2 linked regions of the Homo sapiens genome follow. The protein of the gene in region 1 interacts with the protein of each later gene in a pairwise test. Each region holds a gene or a part of one and is shown on either strand. Other genes may lie near its edges.

Region 1 (2,189 bases):
TTCCATCCAGCATGTTTGTACTCTACATGCTTGTCCTTACAGAGGAAACGGGTTGGTTTTGACACAAATTTCCCTCTCTCCAGGAGTTGAGGAGCCAGAAACAGAAGATGGTCTCAGAAAGGGAGCGGCTCCAGGCAGAACTGGACCACTTACGAAAGTGCCTTGCCTTGCCTGCAATGCACTGGCCTAGGGGCTACCTGAAGGGATATCCCAGGTGACGGTTTCCCTTGCACTAGGCCGAACCTATAGTATAGAAATATTATCTATTTTATTACCTTGAATATTTAATATTTTTCACTGGGAGGTTTGAAGCTTACAAAATGAGAATGTGCCATGCATGAAGCAAAGGATTCCAGGCTCCAGAAAAAATGAATGAACTCACCTTGACGTCAATGCAATTGAATCACCGTTGTCATTCAGCGAGCAACCAATGTAGGATTGCCCACAGTTTTTCTTTTTAAAGGTGGTTTTCGCCCTTCCTCTCCCACATTATTTCTTAATCTGAACATGAAGGCTCCATTAGCAACACTAAAACTTGATCATTAACAGCCCCCTGTGCATATGAGTGGATCAAACCGGTTCTGTTCTTTCTTGTGTTGCCATGTTACTATGCCTCAAGCCCAGTTTGCTTTTGCCGCAGCGATGGGGCCAGTCTCATTCCTCCCCAGGAGTGAAACTTGCTTCAGCTGAAAAGGTTGGGTGCATTGTCAGTAAAAAGGGCTTATTTGTTTCATTTTACTTTCCTGCAAAATTTTCTTCAAAGCAACAAGTCCTAGGAGCACACAAAGCAACCCAAAGGCTTTTCCCTGGAAAAGCTCTTTCTTACCTAAAGATAAAACCAATTCACAAACTGAAGGTAGCTTTTTATTACTCCGTGGGGAGCATGTACAGAGCTCTGTGTATACACAGCTTCACACCCACCAGATTGTTACTACAGTGGGTTGGGTTTTCATACAGACGTAAATTTTGAGAGAAAAGTCAAAGGTGCTTCAGCCTTGTACTGTGTATATATATTAAAAAAAAAACAAAGTTTTGTATGTTTTTATTACTTTAACTATTGTTATAAAAAGCCTGCCATTTTTAATATGTGGTTTGGGGGATTTTTGTTTGTTTTTCCTGTTTGGGGGTTTTGTTTGTTGTTTTGGTTTTTTTTGGGCAAAAAAAAAAAAAAAACCTTGCTTTTAGTGTTTGTACTGCTGCTGGTCAGGACATTAAAATATTGAAGTGTTTTTAAAAATTAAAGAAGAAGAAAAGTAAAAGAGCTTACCACTGGCGCCTATGCGATCACTTCATTTTTAGTTTGAGTTGCACCAGAAGCTGCCGTAGAAAGCCATGCGCTACTGCTTACCTCCTCCACTCCCCCTGCCTGCCCCCAGCATCTGGACAAGCTAATAGCAAATATTACCCATTGCTATCAAGGGAGGAGGGGGTAGTCTGTAGAACCCATGTGTGACAGTCATGTGCACACATGGGCGGGGGCTTTTAAAAACCTTTCAGGAAGTCAATGATTTCTGTGATTGATATAATTCTAAGGTGTCTGAGAGCAGGTACAGAATAGGAACTTCAGAGGCTTTGTTTAAACGCAAAGCTTTGTAAAAGCCACAAGGTCTGAGCTGAACCCCTCCTTTTTGAACTTACTGTGACAAGCACAGGAACGGTCAGAAACTGGGCTCATCACACCAAGGCAAAGCAACGGGCGAGTCTTCCTCCTTGTCCTAGTTACTGCCTATGGAGGCAGTGTTTAGATCAAGAAGGCCTCTCTTGCTCCCAAGGGCCCTCACCAGAGGCCAGGGCTGCCAGTCACTGGTCTGGGGGGTGGAGGCCTGAGCTGAGGGCAGGGTGCCTGACCTGTGTGCCGGCTGCTCACTGCTGTGACCAGCAGCCGAGCCCTTGGCCCTAGCCCTTGCTGCGCAGAACAGCTTGCTGGCAGCTGGCATCGTGTCGCTTTATCTGCCCCCGCACAGTTTGCTTTGTACGTCTGCCAAGAATCTTCCAGTTATTAGCAAACTCAGACGAATGTACCGCCAGTATTATCAGCAGTCAACAAGCACCTTCCTCTCCACAGAAGCAGCTGGAAGAGAACTCGAGGGGCTGTGCTGCAGGCCTCCCCTCGAAAGACACTGGGAGGTCAGCATGTTCCACAGGTGTTCAGAGGGAGTCTGCTACAAACTATCAGGGCAAAATCTCAC
Region 2 (3,709 bases), on another chromosome or scaffold:
AATCTCGGCTCACTGCAACCTCCAACTCCCTGGTTCAAGTGATTCTCCTGCCTCAGCCTCCCGATCCCGAGTAGCTGGGATTACAGGCACGCGCCACCACGCCCAGCTAATTTTTGTATTTTTAGTAGAGACGGGTTTCACCATGTTGGCAAGGATGGTCTCAATCTCCTGACCTCATGATCCGCCCACCTCAGCCTCTCAAAGTGCGGGATTACAGGCGTGATCCACTGCACCCGGCCAATTTTTGTATTTTTTATAAAGACAGGGTTTCGCCATGTTTCCAGGCTGATCTCGAACTCCTGAGCTCAAGCGATCTGCCTGCCTCAGCCTCCCATAGTGTTAGGATTACAGGCGTGAGCCACCACTCCCAGCCTCTCAATTCTTTCTTACCCCTTCGCAATATATATATATATATTTTAGTGAGCCAATGCTTTATGTTTTTATGGAAATAATAGTTTCATTTTAGTCTTATTCATTGATTATTTTATCATTTCCCTTTTACCTATTGATTGATAGTCTGTGTTTCTAGGCTCAGCTTGTCAATCGGAAACAGAAATTAGAGTCTGTGGAACTTTCTAGCCAATCAGAAATTCAACACTTAAGCAGTAAACTGGAGCGGGCTAATGACACTATCTGTGCCAATGAGTTGGAAATAGAGCGCCTCACCATGAGGGTCAATGACTTGGTTGGAACCAGTATGACTGTCCTACAGGAGCAGCAGCAAAAAGAAGAAAAATTGAGGGAATCTGAAAAACTATTAGAGGTATGTTTTAAAATCACTATAATTGGGGGAAGTGTGTGTATGAGTATTTTAAGAGAGTGTTATTAAGCTAGAACTAGGTTCTACAATCCATACTTTCTTCCCTACTTTATAAATGATGGATCAGATATTGATAGTTTTACTAATATTGTGACTTTATTACAATATTTACAATATTGTAATATTGTTACGTAACTTATAGTCTGACTTCCTGGCTTCTCGTGAAATAGAAAAATTGTAATAATAGCTGGCTTAGAAATTTCTGAGTATTTTGCAGGTTCTGCAGGAATTAAAAAGAAGGAAAATTATAATCATATTTGACTTTTTTGCAGGCTCTGCAGGAAGAAAAGAGAGAATTGAAGGCAGCTCTTCAGTCTCAAGAAAATCTCATACATGAGGCCAGAATACAAAAGGAGAAGTTACAAGAAAAAGTAAAGGCAACTAACACTCAACATGCTGTAGAAGCTATAAGGTAAATTTAATCTTAAATATTATTCATCTTAGCCACTTAATGACTAGGTATTAAGCACTAGGCTTATTTTTATTTTTATTTTTATTTTATTTTCAGATAGTCTCCTGTTGCCCAGACTGGAGTGCAGTGGTGCAATCTCAGCTCACTGCAACCTCAACCTCCGAGGTTCAAGCCATTCTCCAGGCTCAGCCTCCCAAGTAGCTGGGACTACAGGTGCATGCTACCACACCTGGCTAGTTTTTTGTATTTTTAGAGACGGGCATTCATCATGTTGGCTAGGCCGGTCTTAAATTCCTAACCTCAGGTGATCTGCCCACCTCAGCCTCCCAAAGTGCTGGGATTACAGGTGTGAGCTGCCACGCCCATCCAAGCACTAGTTTTCATATTGCATATTCATAATTTTATGTTTGATCATATTGTGGATTTTCTTAATTGGCTTTAACTTCTGAGTTAGGTTTTTAAAGTGTTATAAAATTTTGTGTGGTTAATTTTCTTCTGCCACCAGTTAGGGTCCCTAACAGAGACTCTCATGTTTAGAAAGTTAGAAACCAAGGTCAGTTTGCATGCTTGGTGAAAATCCAAATGTGCAGGGAATTGTCATCCATGTCTCCTGGAGGCCTCACTTTGTTGGTGGAATAAGTTGTGATTAGTAGCTGCTTATCATTAATAGCAGCCAGCCATTGGGCTAGCCCTCTTGCTTGATTTAAGTCTGATGCACACTTTTATTTTTGCCAGAATTCTCCTGTAACTTTTCAGTTTTTTTGGTACAGGGTTTCAAGTGTCACTGAAGTGATTTTGCCATTTTGTCTTTTTCCCTTGAAAAAAGGCCAAATCCCAGTTAAGAAGGGAGTAAATTGCTACTTTTTGAAGTATCAGCATCTCTTGACTCTTTCTTTCCTCTCCCAATATTCTTTTTATAAAGCAGGAGACAAACTTGAAGAGTTCCAAAGAGGTTACCAAAAATGATGGGGAAACACAGACTAGATGAGCATTATTTTTGTTTGCAGAGATAAAGGCGTTAACAATCATCCTATGTCTTTCCATAGGCCACGGGAAGAATCTCTGGCAGAAAAGAAGTACACCTCTCAAGGGCAGGGGGACTTAGACAGTGTGCTCTCCCAGTTGAATTTTACCCATACTAGTGAGGACCTTCTGCAGGCAGAGGTGACTTGTCTTGAAGGCAGGTACATAATTATACACACATTTCAAAAATTTCAAGTTGTTAAAATGAATTTTTGATCATCATATTGTAAATGAATGTAATAGTCATAGTAAAAAAAATAAGATTTTTTTCTAGTATCCACAAATGGCCTAAGTTCTTATTTCTTTTTTTTTTTTTTTGAGACGGAGTCCGCTCTGTCACCCAGACTGGAGTGCAATGGCACAATCTCAGCTCACTGCAACCTCCGCCTCCCGGTTCAATTGATTCTTCTGCCCCAGCCTCCTGAGTAGCTGAGATTACAGGCGTGCACCACCATGCCTGGCTAATTTTTATATTTTTGTAGAGACGGTGTTTCACCATGTTGGCCAGGCTGGTCTTGAACTCCTGACCTCAGGTGATCCACCTGCCTTGGCCTCCCAAAGTGCTGGGATTACAGGCATGAGTCACCGCACCCTGCCCTAAGTTCTTATTTCATTGAGAAGACAGAAGCAATTAAAGGAGAACCTCTTAATCTTTCTGTCATCAAATCTACCAGTCTGCCCATACCTGTGCCTTTCTGCACTTCTAAGACCAACCACTCCACTTGTGTCCTTTTTCTGTAGTTATATCCTTTCTCTTCTGCATCATCAAGTTCTTTCTGTCTGCTGAATCTATCCACTGGTATAAAATACGCTGTAACATCACCCATCTGGGGGAAAAACCATCCCTTAATCCTATGTCTCCGTCAAGTTATTTCCACATTTCTGTACTTCTCTTTAAGACCAAATTCTTCAAAAGAGTTGTCTATACTGACTCTACTTCTTTACCTTTCACCTGTTTAGCAGCCCTTCACTTAGGTTTTCCTCCTTGCCACCTCAGAAGCAGGGTAGGAAGGGGTAACAGTTGACACATGGTGATCCTTTTTGTTCTGCTGTGGTGTTGTTACTTCCTTGGGTGTTAATTGAATCCTGACTAATGCTATACCATACCCACCTAAACACTTGTCATTGTCGTACTTATAGAATTTTTTTTGGTTTTTCATAACCTCTCAACTTTTTGATTGGGAAGAGTGTGATATCTTGTTTTAAACACATGAATCATGATCATTTGTACACTGACATTTTCTGTATGTAAAAGATAAAATTGCTTTTAACATGAACTGTTAACCTTTAGGCAAACAACAAGAGAAATATCATTTTACACTTTTTAGGTTATCTTTAAGTAATACATTTTTTGTTTTTACATTTATTTCTGGTTTTGGAAACCAGTAAGTATTTTCTTACTTTTATCTACATGTTAAATACACAAACATGCATACACACACATATTTTCTGCT

The links. Proteins that work in one complex are often made in the same cells at the same time.
Region 2: the proteins of GSE1 (region 1) and CEP63 interact in a two-hybrid assay, tested with the Homo sapiens proteins (2 studies listed by BioGRID and IntAct).

The regions. Positions count from the first base shown.
Region 1 is NC_000016.10:85,672,322-85,674,510, forward strand, and holds part of GSE1 (genetic suppressor element 1), read left to right. Parts: intron 1-83; coding exon 84-218; 3' UTR 219-2,189.
Region 2 is NC_000003.12:134,545,057-134,548,765, forward strand, and holds part of CEP63 (centrosomal protein of 63 kDa), read left to right. Parts: intron 1-529; coding exon 530-763; intron 764-1,092; coding exon 1,093-1,232; intron 1,233-2,278; coding exon 2,279-2,416; intron 2,417-3,709. UniProt on the Homo sapiens protein: Required for normal spindle assembly.